Linked DNA regions of Homo sapiens. The protein of the gene in region 3 interacts with the protein of the main gene of each other region in a pairwise test. Each region holds a gene or a part of one and is shown on either strand. Other genes may lie near its edges.

Evidence for each region.
Region 1: the proteins of CLIC6 (region 3) and UBE4A interact in a two-hybrid assay, tested with the Homo sapiens proteins (one large-scale study listed by BioGRID and IntAct).
Region 2: the proteins of CLIC6 (region 3) and PGK1 interact in a two-hybrid assay, tested with the Homo sapiens proteins (one large-scale study listed by BioGRID and IntAct).
Region 4: the proteins of CLIC6 (region 3) and TUBGCP5 interact in a two-hybrid assay, tested with the Homo sapiens proteins (one large-scale study listed by BioGRID and IntAct).

What each region holds. Positions count from the first base shown.
Region 1 is NC_000011.10:118,366,100-118,369,599, forward strand, and holds part of UBE4A (ubiquitin conjugation factor E4 A), read left to right. Parts: intron 1-2,531; coding exon 2,532-2,705; intron 2,706-3,323; coding exon 3,324-3,436; intron 3,437-3,500.
Region 2 is NC_000023.11:78,124,748-78,128,247, forward strand, and holds part of PGK1 (phosphoglycerate kinase 1), read left to right. Parts: intron 1-126; coding exon 127-304; intron 305-579; coding exon 580-678; intron 679-1,042; coding exon 1,043-1,083; 3' UTR 1,084-3,500. UniProt on the Homo sapiens protein: Catalyzes one of the two ATP producing reactions in the glycolytic pathway via the reversible conversion of 1,3-diphosphoglycerate to 3-phosphoglycerate.
Region 3 is NC_000021.9:34,710,494-34,713,993, forward strand, and holds part of CLIC6 (chloride intracellular channel protein 6), read left to right. Parts: intron 1-3,500. UniProt on the Homo sapiens protein: In the soluble state, catalyzes glutaredoxin-like thiol disulfide exchange reactions with reduced glutathione as electron donor. Can insert into membranes and form voltage-dependent chloride-selective channels.
Region 4 is NC_000015.10:23,019,070-23,022,569, reverse strand, and holds part of TUBGCP5 (gamma-tubulin complex component 5), read left to right. Parts: intron 1-408; coding exon 409-611; intron 612-3,189; coding exon of another isoform or gene 3,190-3,235; coding exon 3,236-3,351; intron 3,352-3,500. UniProt on the Homo sapiens protein: Component of the gamma-tubulin ring complex (gTuRC) which mediates microtubule nucleation.

The DNA.
Region 1 (3,500 bases), on a different chromosome or scaffold from region 3:
GGCCTTTCAGTTAGAAAGGGCTGAAGAAAAAAGAGGTAAAGGCAAGACAGATAAGTGATTGATGCAAGGGAAAAACAAAATCAATGTTGATTTTTTTTAACATGGTATTTTCAGTCTCTGAAATCTCTCCCAGATTTCTATGATACGGGGCCAGAATGGGAAACTCTGGTTTAGAAGATTGTAGGGGAAAAAGCAGAGTGAAAAATAGGAAAAATAAGGAATGAGAAAGTATGATTTATGAGTATGTGGTTGAGGGAAATTTTGCTAAACAGATTCTTAGCTTCTGTCACCATTGGAGGTCAGAGAAAAACTCAACAGTATAGCAGCTGAGCAACAGAACGCTTGTCCTTCTGGCTATAAACAGACATAAATCTGGCTAGAGTTGGGAGCATTGCAGGCACATGCCCTTCTGTTACTATTTTGGCACCTCATCATCCTAGTTTGTTTACACTGAGTTTATCATGCCACCAGGTCCAACCTGTTTCCACTAGCAATTAGTACTTTGCCAAAACCTTTGGCTTCCTATGTTGAGCTTATACTCACCACACTGAAACAACTCTTACTTTGAGAGTTTTACCTGGACTTTCAGACTAGCCATTCTGTCAATAGAGAAAAGTACATATAGACTCATATGTGGCATATAGTGAATAACACTACTTTTATGTAGTCATTCAACATGAATGATGGGGCTGGGCGCAGTGGCTCGCGCCTGTAATCCCAGCTCCTTGGGAGGCCTAGGTGGGCAGATCACCGGAGGTCAGGAGTTCGAGACCAGCCTGGCCAACATGACAAAACCCCGTCTCTACTAAAAACACAAAAATTAGTCGGGCATGATGACAGGCGCCTATAATCCCAGCACTCTGGGAGGCCAAGGTGGGCGGATCACCTGAGGTCAGGAGTTTGAGACCAGCCTGGCCAACATGGTGAAACCCCATCTCTACTAAAAATACAAAAATTAGCCGGGCGTGGTGGTGGGCGCCTGTAGTCCCAGCTACTTGGCTGAGGCAGGAGAATCACTTGAACCTGGGAGGTAGAGGTTGCGGTGAGCCGAGATCACACCACTGCACTCCAGCCTGGGCGACAGAGTGAGAGTCCATCTCAAAAAAAAAAATCAAAGGATGGGAGCAGATTTTGAGGACAGAAGTTTAAAAAAAAAAAAATCGAAGGAATTTCATCAATAAGAAAAAAATAACAAGAAAGAATAAAAAGGTACAAAAGATGTGACATGCAACTTATAACCAAATGATTAAAAAATTTATTCTCATCAATCATTAGAGAAGTGCCAATTAAAACAACCATTAAATTGTTTTTTTACCTATGAAATTTGTGAAGATTCAAACAGGCACTCTCTCATATACTGTTGGGTTTGCATGTAAATCAGACAGTCTCTTTGAGGGTAACTTGGTAGTAAATGTTAACTTTTTTTTTTTTTTTTTTTTGAGACGAAGTCTTGCTCTGTCACCGAGGCTGGAGTGCAGTGCAACCTCTGCCTCCCGGGTTTAAGCAATTCTCCTGCCTCAGCCTCCCGAGTAGCTGGGACTACAGGTGTGTGCCACCACGCCTGGCTAATTTTTTGTATTAGTAGGGATGGGGTTTCACCATGTTAGCCAGGATGGTCTCAATCTCCTGACCTCGTGATCCGCCTGCCTCAGCCTCCCAAAGTGCTGGGATTACAGGTGTGAGCCACCGTGCCAGGCAGTAAATGTTAACTTTTTAAATGTTCAAGCTCTTTGATCCAGCAGTTCTGCTACTGTGAATTTATCCTATAGAAATACTCATACAAGTAAACAAAAAGAGTTAAGTTGTATTGTATTCAGTGCAGTATTTAAAATCATGAAATATTAGAAACAACCCTATTGTTCATCAGTTGAAAAGTAGCTACATAAACCACAGGGCATGCAAAAGATGTGATACAATACAGCTATTAAAAATAGTGAGGTAGGCCTCTAAATGGCCTAACAGGGAAAGGTGTTGGTGCTGATTAAAAGGCAAGCTGAAAAGAGCTATGTATAGTATCCCATTTTTTAAAAAAATTAAAAAGATAGTAATGAATATTAGCACCAGAAAAGAAAAAAATTCTTGAACACTGTTAAGTGTCTTTAGGGAATTGGTTCAGGAGACTTTCTATACTATATTTTTCTGTACAGTTAAGAACTATTAAAACAAATGTTATCTCTTAAAATCAGGGAGAAAAGCCATACATTTAAAATAATTAAAGGCATTTTGATCTATTAGGTAATTCTTTGTTCACTAGGATTCTGTAGAGAAGATAACTTTGCTATTTCTGGCAGTGTGGAGTATAATTATGGATAGAAATAAAACTTTTGCTTTGTAAAATGTGGTAGGATTTATAGCCAGGAATTTCAAAACCCTATATTTAACTTCCCTGACTTGAGATGTTCACTAATTAGATGATTAGCTTGTTTTACATCTGAAATTATCATCTTCTTGGTTACATTTATTATTTTTGGTAGCATGCTTGGTTCTCTCTTAAAGGGGTGTAACATTTAACAGTATACATTTTCTGGCAGATGAACTCCCAGCTAGCCCAGATGACTCGGATAATAGCGTGTCAGAGAGCCTGGATGAATTCGATTACTCTGTGGCTGAGATTAGCCGCTCATTCCGATCACAGCAGGAAATATGTGAGCAACTCAACATCAATCACATGATCCAAAGGATCTTCCTTATTACTCTGGACAACAGTGAGTTACAAACTTATAGCATTATTCTACCCTTCCTATTTGAGCTTGGGCTAGGGGCTTGCTCTTTGAAACTGGTTACAGCTAATGGTTAGATACAAACCTACTCACTGCACTCCCTGGAACTCAGGGTTTATATTTCAGTGAACCTTTTGGTATGACCTAAAAACAGTATTTAGATGCAGATCTAACTTTTGTTCCCATTTCAATACTGACTGCACTATATAGCTACTTGCCTTTACTACCTTAAAAAGGAAATGGGAAGGGTAGCCAAACCCATTTTCTTCTCAGAGGTAACCTAAATATTCAGATGGAAGCCTTCAGAGGCATCAGAGAGTGTTTGCCCTCTGTGCCCTGTCTGTGTTTAAACCCCAAGGTTGGTACTAATGTCTGGGATTTACTCTTTAAATGTCATGATGCTAGGTTTATAACAAATCCCATTCTCTGTGACTAGAGGGGGAAAAAAAAAGATTTGAATCTTTAGATGTTGCTTTGTGTATCAGGATCATTCTGGTATTACTTGAGTCAGATTTGCAGTTCAAGAGTGATGCTGTCAAGATCAGTTGTCTGTATAAAACAGAAGCATTATCCTTAACCTATCATATTAAAACCATTTCCCAGGTGATCCCAGCTTGAAAAGCGGGAATGGCATCCCTAGCCGTTGTGTGTATTTGGAAGAAATGGCAGTAGAGCTAGAAGATCAAGACTGGCTTGATATGAGCAATGTTGAGCAGGTAATATTCTTACGTTCCTAATGTGTGCCCTTAGCAAAAATTAGCTATGCGGCTGAATTCTGCT
Region 2 (3,500 bases), on a different chromosome or scaffold from region 3:
ACTGAAGGGTACTATTTGTTTCTAGAAGAAACTTTGGTGTGCAGCCCTGAGTTCTGGTCTTGGTGGAGGTGGTGTTTAAGTAGCTTTTCTTGATAGCTCATCTTCTCTTTCACCTCTACCCCTCAGGGCTTGGACTGTGGTCCTGAAAGCAGCAAGAAGTATGCTGAGGCTGTCACTCGGGCTAAGCAGATTGTGTGGAATGGTCCTGTGGGGGTATTTGAATGGGAAGCTTTTGCCCGGGGAACCAAAGCTCTCATGGATGAGGTGGTGAAAGCCACTTCTAGGGGCTGCATCACCATCATAGGTAAGCGGTCCTATACAAAGCTAATACCCATATAAGCTGGCAGAATTCTGATCAGAGGAAGGTGGAATGGAGAACTTCTTCTATGTCTCTTTATTCTGGGTAAATGTTAAGAGGTAAACAGGTAGGTAATTTACAGAGGAGCCTCTTGGTAAGATAGAGTTGGGGGTTTATCAGCTACCTTTTGGGTTGGGGAGCACACTGCCTTACAGTTTTGGTGCCAATCCCTTTTTTTTCTTTTCTCTCTTTTCCCTTTTTACCTGGCTTTCATTCAACAGGTGGTGGAGACACTGCCACTTGCTGTGCCAAATGGAACACGGAGGATAAAGTCAGCCATGTGAGCACTGGGGGTGGTGCCAGTTTGGAGCTCCTGGAAGGTGAGGGTCTTCTGTTTTTTGGCTTGTTTGGGATAAGGGTGGACTGTGCAGTGAGAGGTGGGTAGAATGGAGTGGAGAAAGTTAGAAGGTAGTGTTGTCATTAGCAGTCATTACTACCTGGGCAGTACAGAGGAACTTCAGATAAAGCTCCTGGCATCCACTGAGGCGGGGAGGGACAGATAGAAACTTGGTCTGAGAGTTATGGTCTAGTAGACCTGGAATCCACAATGTAAAAGTTGGCCAGCTCCTGGCCATATATCCTAAAAAAGAGCTGGCATGTTATTGGGAAGATAAAGTGGGGGAAATCTGGCTTACTGGGCCCTATAGTAATGCTGTCTATGTATGTGTGCTCTCTCAAAAACAGGTAAAGTCCTTCCTGGGGTGGATGCTCTCAGCAATATTTAGTACTTTCCTGCCTTTTAGTTCCTGTGCACAGCCCCTAAGTCAACTTAGCATTTTCTGCATCTCCACTTGGCATTAGCTAAAACCTTCCATGTCAAGATTCAGCTAGTGGCCAAGAGATGCAGTGCCAGGAACCCTTAAACAGTTGCACAGCATCTCAGCTCATCTTCACTGCACCCTGGATTTGCATACATTCTTCAAGATCCCATTTGAATTTTTTAGTGACTAAACCATTGTGCATTCTAGAGTGCATATATTTATATTTTGCCTGTTAAAAAGAAAGTGAGCAGTGTTAGCTTAGTTCTCTTTTGATGTAGGTTATTATGATTAGCTTTGTCACTGTTTCACTACTCAGCATGGAAACAAGATGAAATTCCATTTGTAGGTAGTGAGACAAAATTGATGATCCATTAAGTAAACAATAAAAGTGTCCATTGAAACCGTGATTTTTTTTTTTTTCCTGTCATACTTTGTTAGGAAGGGTGAGAATAGAATCTTGAGGAACGGATCAGATGTCTATATTGCTGAATGCAAGAAGTGGGGCAGCAGCAGTGGAGAGATGGGACAATTAGATAAATGTCCATTCTTTATCAAGGGCCTACTTTATGGCAGACATTGTGCTAGTGCTTTTATTCTAACTTTTATTTTTATCAGTTACACATGATCATAATTTAAAAAGTCAAGGCTTATAACAAAAAAGCCCCAGCCCATTCCTCCCATTCAAGATTCCCACTCCCCAGAGGTGACCACTTTCAACTCTTGAGTTTTTCAGGTATATACCTCCATGTTTCTAAGTAATATGCTTATATTGTTCACTTCTTTTTTTTTTATTTTTTAAAGAAATCTATTTCATACCATGGAGGAAGGCTCTGTTCCACATATATTTCCACTTCTTCATTCTCTCGGTATAGTTTTGTCACAATTATAGATTAGATCAAAAGTCTACATAACTAATACAGCTGAGCTATGTAGTATGCTATGATTAAATTTACTTATGTAACTTTTATTGTCTTTGGCATTAACAGTGTTTCAAAAAATTTTCTGTGTATACCCATCAGTGATTCATTCCCAAATCTTCTAGAAGCATAAGTGTCTCAATATATTAAAACATATTGAATAATCCTTGTTAGAGTTATCCCTGCAGGAGTCCTTAGTGCTCCTTTATCCAATTTGTACTTGATGCCCTCTAGGCAGGGTGTACAGCTAGCTGTTGCTCTGGTATTTCCTATAACCTTCTTGGGGATTTCTTTTACCTCCTGTGTTAGACTCCTGTTTTCTGGATTCCCCCTTTTCCCTCTTTCTTGGTCTACTTTTTGTAGAACACAAGACTCTACTAGCTTCCTGAGAAAGGGTGCCTGGGAGGCAAAATCTCTAAGACTTTGTAAGTCTGAAAATGTCTTTATTCGACCCTTATACTTGATTCCTAGTTTGGCTATATATAGAATTTTAGCCTGAGTATCACTTTTTGAGACTCGAAGCCACTGTTTCATTGTCACTATTGAGAATCTAAATGGCCATTCGGATTCTTTCATCATCTTTATAATTTTACCTTCCTATTTCTTTCCTGTCCTTTTAATGGAGTTTTGGGAGAGAGCAGAGGTAAACATGATTTGAAAAAGCCATGTCTGACCAGAAATTCTGTGCTGGAAAGATATGTATTTCACCTTTAGGGACAAAGAAATAAACTTTTGGACAGGACCACAGAGCTAGTAAGTAACAGCAGGGATTCAAGTCCAGGTTTGTCTGGTTCCAGTGGCTGATGCTTTTCCAATGTGCCTCCGTCCCTGACATGATGCTTCTAGGCTATAGATGCTTCTAGACTCTATCCCTGACATGATGCTTCTAGACTATTTTGTTTAACCCTGGATAGAATAGCAAAAGAAAATTTTGGTGGTTGCTCTAAACAAAACAGAAATTTGAAAGCTCAAGTTTTTTCTTCATTTGTATTTTAGTTAATACTGTACCCATATTTGTAGTTAATTTTAAATTGTACCATGTTTCTGCATACCTCTATGGGTACTCAGGAATTCTAGTCCAATTTTTGTGACTTTTTCCTACTGATTACCTTTCCTCCAACGTTTTAAAAATTATTTCAAATGGAACTGAAAGAAGCATAAACTCCCATAAACCCAGCACCTAGACTCTACAATTGCCAACATTATCTATCCAACAATCTCTGACTGTACCTTTTAAGTACTTTCTACTGGACTGTTTCCAGGATCACCCCTCATTTATTTGGGTTGTTAACCTAAAGAATGAATGGGGGAATCTCCAGTCATAAACAACTTGTCAATTAGGCAAATATTTGAGTTCCTTCTATGTGCTTAAAGACGTGATAGAGGGAATATAAGAGCATTTATGTTCTGAAGGAATTTTTAACCTAACCAAAGAAGATAGTAGATAACTTGTGTGCATATAAG
Region 3 (3,500 bases):
AAACTGTCTGGGGAGCTTTTTAGAAATGTGAGTCCCCGGGCCAGGCATGGCGGCTCACGCCTGTAATCCCAGCACTTTGGGAGGCCAAGGCGGGCAGGTCACGAAGTCAGGAGATCGAGACCATCCTGGCTAACATGGTGAAACTCCCTATCTACTAAAAATACAAAAAATTAGCCAGGTGTGGTGGCGGGCACCTGTACTCCCAGCTACCTGGGGGGCTGAGGCAGGAGAATCGCTTGAACCCGGGAGGCAGACATTGCAGTGAGCCAAGATCACACCACTGAACTCCAGCTTGGGTGACAGAGCAAGACTCCGTCTCAGAAAAAAAACAAAAAACAAACAAACAAAAACCCCAAAAAAACAAGAAATGTAAGTCCCCGACCCACTGCCTGCGCTAGTAAATCGGAGCTTCCAAGAGTGACCCCTGGAGCTCCAAGCGGATATCCCCACACTCGGACTCTGTAGCTGTTGCTGTCTCTCAGCACAGCAGCGCTCCCAGCCGCTCTATCACTTATAGAAGTTGAATGTGATTGCTGTGATGAGATTGCTATGTCCTTGGCCCTTAGCAGCTCCAGATACCTCAGGAAGAAGCCCATGCCTGGCTCTGGGGCATTTTTATGATTAAAATCCTGCCAGGGCCAGAGCCAGGTGGTTGGTATAAGTGTAGGGGAGATGGGAGAAACACCAGGAAAAATAAGTCATGGACTGTTTGTTCTAATAACACATTTAGTTAGCATTTAGAAATTACAAGGTAGCGGCCAGGCGCAGTGGCTCATGCCTGTAATCCCAGCACTTTGGGAGGCCAAGATGGGCAGATCACTTGAGGCCAGGAGTTTGAGACCAGCCTGGCCAACATGGAGAAACCCTATCTCTACAAAAAATAAAAAAATTAGCTAGGTGTGGTGGTGTGCGCCTGTAGTCCCATGCATTTGGGAGGCTGAGGCACGAGAATCATTTGAACCCAGGAGGCGGAGGTTGCAGTGAGCACTCACTCCAGCCTGGGCAACAGAGCAAGACTCTGTCAAATAAACAAACAAATAAATAAATAAATAAATAAATAAATAAATAAATAAATAAATTACATGTTAGCTTCACACAGTCTATGGTGCTGAGGCTCCTGTGGGCTCCCGGCCACCCCTGGTGACTCTGCTTCATTCTTTTGCCTTTGTCTTCCTGCATTTCTTCTTTCTATCCTCTTCCCCTCTCGGTCCTGGCCCTGTTGCTCCCTTCTTCTCCCTTCCTTTTTGTGCGTGAGGATACTGACTTGAAATGCAGGCCTTCAGGAGGTTGCTGATCCCTTGGGCAGATGTCTTTTCAATAGCTTTGCCAGTCCACCAATATCCAAAATTTAATGAAAGCATCTCCACCCCTCAAAACCTGCTAAATTTGGGAGCTGCCTTCTAACAGGATATTTATGTAGCTGTGTTTTGATTGAGTCCCTTTTGGTAAATGCTTTTTAGTCCCTACTGTGACCAGCGTAGCATTGCAGAAACACATGAAACTTGAAGAAGAGGGGGAGAAATATCCCAGCCACAGAGCATTCATGGCCCCTTGTTTAGCTCCCATGAGAAAAGACGATTTTAAATTTCAGTAGAAAGGGTAAGCTTTAGAGTGAGATTGCAGTTCATGGCTCCACTATAAGACCCAGAAGAAAAATCTGCAAGGCCATTTAGCACTCACAATACCCAACAGCTTAATGATCTTCCAGGATGGAGTACTTCTGAAAGGAAATGAGAATCAATCTAAGGGAATTATGGTAAAAGATGAGAGTGTGAAGGGATTTATAATTTATTCCCCTGCCAGAAACCCAGCAAAAACAATATCAAAATAGGGTATTAGCTTCATCTTTTTTGTAAAACTACAAAGGGATGACAGATCATCGACTTAAAGAGTAGGAAGCTTCTTTCAGTGGGAGGAGCCACAGAACCATTACATGTTTCTCCGTATCTTTAGCAAAGTTCAGATTTCTCAAAAGGTAAAGAACACAGTCCTGAAATACCCAACTCAAACTTCTTTGCTTGAGGCCTAGAGCATGAGATGGGCCAGGAGGGAATCACAGAACTTCCCTATAGAGACCCTTGTTGAGCTGAGATCTCTAGGGAGGCAGAATTGAAGGAGGAGCCACACAGAGACGCCATCTTTCTAGGCTGTGACCCAGCACCTAATCCAGAGGAACAGTCTGGAGGGGAGGTAAAGAGGGAGGAAAGGAGGGAAGTGGCATTTTGCATTGTGACTGCTGAGCAGAGAAAAGAATCTAGGCCCCAGCCAGTCAAGAGAGAGACTAGAATTGCCCAAACTTCGTTTCTAGCCACAGTGGCCTTCTGCCTAATCTGTGAGCCTCAGAGTGGAGGATGCCCTAACCCTAACCCTAACCCTAACCCTAACCCTAACCCTAACCGTAACTCTAACCCTAACCCCAGCCCTAACCCCAACTCTAATGTGTCTCTCTGGGGCAGAGCAGTGGTTGGCGACAAGGTGCTTGGGAGCAAATATTCCAGTTGGTTGGCCACCTGCCCTGTCTCACTCCCTTTGCCCTCCCCACTGCTTTTAAGCAAATGATAGGTCCAGTAGATCTGCCTCATTCAAAGAAGGCCAATACCAGAGAGAATGCCAGTGAGACCTTGGGGTAGACAGAGTTGATTGAAAAGAAGGGGGTGGGGGGAGGAATGATAAAGACAAGAAACAAAAACAGAAAAAGACAGATGGGAAATACATATATGATCAAGAACTGCTCCTCCAGCACATTAAAGAACGTTTCTTACAGAAATTTTTCTACAGCCTCAAAGAAATGAAAGAGAATATGGGCTTTTTGAGAAAAATCTCAAAGACAAGACACAAGATGTTCAAAAATATATTATCACAAAGGGGATGGAAATCAGGCTGGAAGAGCTCAAGAAGAAAAGTAAAGACAAATAAAAGAACTGCAGAAATAAAAGTCCTGTTAGAAGCAGTAAGACACAGACGAAGACATTGCTGAAATTGATTTCCTCTGACATTCGCACACATCTTATAGAGTTGGTTTTGGCATGTGGAATGTGTTTGTAGCCGTGCTGTCAGTGATTTGGAAGACAAGCCTGAGAAAAATCATCTAAAATCAAGTGGGGAAGAATAAAAAAGGTGATTAGAGAGATCCCAGATATACATGATCAGGAACAAGAGAACAGAAAAGGAAAAGGAAAGGAAAAAAAAATAAAAGAAAACGAGAGAATGTTCAATGGGGAAATTACTTTGAACTAAAGGATGACCTGAATCTTCAGTTTAAATGACATGCCATGTTAAACATTGCCCCAGAAAGATCAACACACTGAGACATACTTGATACATTACTGAGCTTTGAGAATAAAAAACAACCCTTTTTGGCACCTAGACAATAATAATACTGTAATACCAACAACAGTAATAATAATAAAAAGAATGAAATAGAGTAAAGCCAGTGAAACAGGGAAGAAATTCAGACTGGCCCCAGATGTCTTCATGAACCCATTAAAAATCAGAAAATT
Region 4 (3,500 bases), on a different chromosome or scaffold from region 3:
CCAGGAGCTTGCTTGTGCAGCCCTTTGTAGGCACAGCCTCCCTCACCCCTCTCTGTAACATTAGCCCATTGGGAGGTGTTTTGTTTTACCTAGTGTAATTTTAATTTGCGTTCTTTTATTATAAGTAAGGTCAAGTGACTTTCTGTATGTTTTAGAATCACTCATCATTCCTTTTTTATGAACTGTCAGTTCCTTTATACATTATTTTTCTGCTGAGTTGTCTTTTTCTCTGTGACTTGCAGGAGTTCTTCCTTAGGGAAATTAGGTCCTTGTGGTATGAGATTAAAATCCACCGTCCTCCATTTTGCCCTGCCTGTCCATAAGCCTGATGATTTGCCAGCATTTATGTCACATTTTAGATGCATGTATTTTTCCTTGCTGTTGAGTTTGATTTATTGATATTTGCAGATACTACAATAACTCTTGCAATAGTGGTGGACAAGTTGGCACCTCGATTGTCTCAGCTCAAGGTTCTGCACAAAGTGTTTAGTACTGGAGTAGCAGAAGTTCCACCTGATACTCGAAATGTCGTCCGGGCCTCTCACCTGCTTAACACCCTGTACAAGGCCATTCTTGAATATGACAATGTTGGAGAAGCCTCTGAGCAAACCGTAAGTGAGACTTCTGCCTAAAGTGTGTGACTCCATGCTGCACAGCAGAGGAGTGATAGACAGCTGATGGTAGTTCTTTGTTGATACTTGAATGATGACTCGTCAGACAGTTCAGAGTTTTTAAATTAACTTCCAAATTTAAGGCTGTAGGAAACTGGCTTTTCAGCTCTAATTGCCAAGATCCTCAGAAGGATGAGGCAAGGACAAGGCAAGCTGTGAGAAGTACCTACCTGATGTGTATAGATATTTACAATAACGCTTTCTTACATAAACACTAACATGTAACTAACATGACATGAGATAGCTGAAGTAGACACATCCACAGAAACAAAGTGGAATGCTGGTTACCAAGGGCTGGGGAATGGGGAGCTGTTGTTTAATGGGTACAGAGTTTCAGTTTTATAACATGAAAAAGTTCTGGAGATTTGTCACAACGATATGAATGTACTTAAAACCTCTGAACTTAAAAATGCTGAGGGTCAGGCACAGTGGCTCGTGCCTGTAATCCCAACACTTTGGGAGGCCGAGGCAGGAGGATTGATTGAGCCCAGGAGTTTGAGACTTGCCTGGGCAACATAGTAAGACTCTGTCTTTAAAAAATTAGTTAAATTAAAATTTTTTAAAATATACAGTTAAGATAAATTTTATGTTATATATTTTATATTGTATTTTAAAAAATACAAATCTAGGCCATGCATAGTGGCTCACGCCTGTAGTCCCAGCTACATATGAGTCTGAGGTGAGAGGATCACTTGAGCCCAGGAATTTGAGACCAGCCCGGGCAACATACTGAGACCCTGTCTCTACAAAAAATTTTTAAAGTAGCCAGGTGTGCTGACACCAGGAATTCGAGACCAGCCTGGCCAACATGGTGAAACCCCGTCTCTACTAAAAATACAAACATTAGCCTAGTGTGGTGGCGAACACCTGTCATCCCAGCTACTCAGGAGGCTGAGGCAGGAGAATTGCTTGAACCCGGGAGGATGCAGTGAGCCGAGATCGCACCACTACACTCCAGCCTGGGCAACAGAGCAAGACTCTGTCTCAAAAAAGGTAGCCAGCTCTGGAGGCACATGCCTATGGTCCCAGGTACTCGAGAGGCTAAGGCAGGAAGATGGCTTGAGTGTGGAAGGTCAAGGCTGCAGTGAGCCATGTTTGTGCCACTGCACTCCAGCTTGGGTAACAGAGCAAGACCCTGTCTCAAACAATATATAGATTTAAAAATAAAAATCTAACTAGAGGCTGTAATTTAGAATGCTACAGTCTTAGTTGGGTATGTACATTAGGTGTATTTTCTAGTTTGTTGGTATAACTTTTTTTCACACCAATTTAATACCATATTTCTTTTTTTCTTTTTTTTTTTTTTTTTTTTTTGAGACGTAGTCTTGCTCTGTTGCCAGGCTGGAGTGCAGTCGCACGATCTTGGCTCACTGCAACCTCCACCTCCCAGGTTCAAGTGATTCTTCTGCCTCAGCCCCCTGAGTAGCTGGGACTACAGGCGCACATCACCATGCCCGGCTAATTTTTTGGGGTTTTTTTTTGTTTTTTGTTTGAGATGGAGTCTCGCCCTGTCGCCCAGGCTGGAGTGCAGTGTCATGATCTTGGCTCACTGCAACCTCTGCCTCCTGGGTTCAAACTATTCTCCTGCCTTAGCCTCCTGAGTACCTGGGATTACAGGCGCCCACCACCATGCCCATCTAATTTTTGTATTTTTAATAGAGATGGGGTTTCACCATGTTGGCCAGGCTGGTCTCGAGCTCCTGACCTCCTGATCCGCCTACCTCGGCCTTCCAAAGTGCTGGGATTACAGGCATGAGCCACCACACCCAGCTGTATTTTTTTTTAATAGAGATGGGGTTTCACCATATTGGCCAGGCTGGTCTCAAACTCCTGCCCTTGTGATCTGCCCACCTCAGCCTCCCAAAGTGCTGGGGTTACAGGCGTGAGCCACCATGCCCAGCCAATTTCCTCATCCTTAATGGATGCTTTGCTAGTAATAGGATTTAGATAGGGAAACCTTGTTCGCTTGCCTGGGCTATCTCAGGATACACCTGCTGCCTCTGTGTCACTTTCACTCTCAAGTTTCCCAGTCTGGACTACAAACAATATGATCATCCCATATTTAGGTGAGTTTTTCTTTTTTCTTTTTTTTTTCTTTTTGTTTTGAGACAGTGTCACTCTGTTGCCAGGCTGGAGTGTAGTGGCACGATCTTGGCTCATTGCAGCCTCCACCTGCCAGATTCAAGCAATTCTCCTCCCTCAGCCTCCCAAGTAGCCAGGACTACAGGCGCGTGTCACCATGCCCAGCTAATTTTTGTATTTTTAGTAGAGAGGGGGTTTCACCATGTTGGCCAGGATGGTCTCGATTTCTTACCTCAGGTGATCCGCCCACCTCGGTCTCCCAAAGTGCTGGGATCACAGGCGTGAGCCACCACGCCCGGCATTTAGGTGAGTTTTTCATAAGGATTTTATAGTGTATGTTTTTGGATTTTTAATTTCTTTGTGCCCCAAAAAACATAGAAATCCGATCACTTTTTTAAAGGCATTTCAGAAATGTTTAAACCTCCTTTTATCCTAGTGACCAGGGAACCCTGAGAGCTGACCGTGCACACTCTCTGCCTCAGGTCTCCCTCCTTTTCTCTCTCTGGGTGGAAACGGTGCGGCCTTACCTGCAGACGGTGGACGAGTGGATCGTGCACGGGCACCTGTGGGATGGCGCCAGGGAGTTCATCATCCAGAGGTGAGCTGCAGCAGAGCACAAGGTCACTGGGGGCTGGCATCACCAGTTTCCTCCCCATGAAAATCAAATGCTTTCGTTAGTTTCAGACAGTACTGAGAAAGCACAGTTCACATCACAGAACTTGTCGTCATCATAGGCAAGTTCTATCT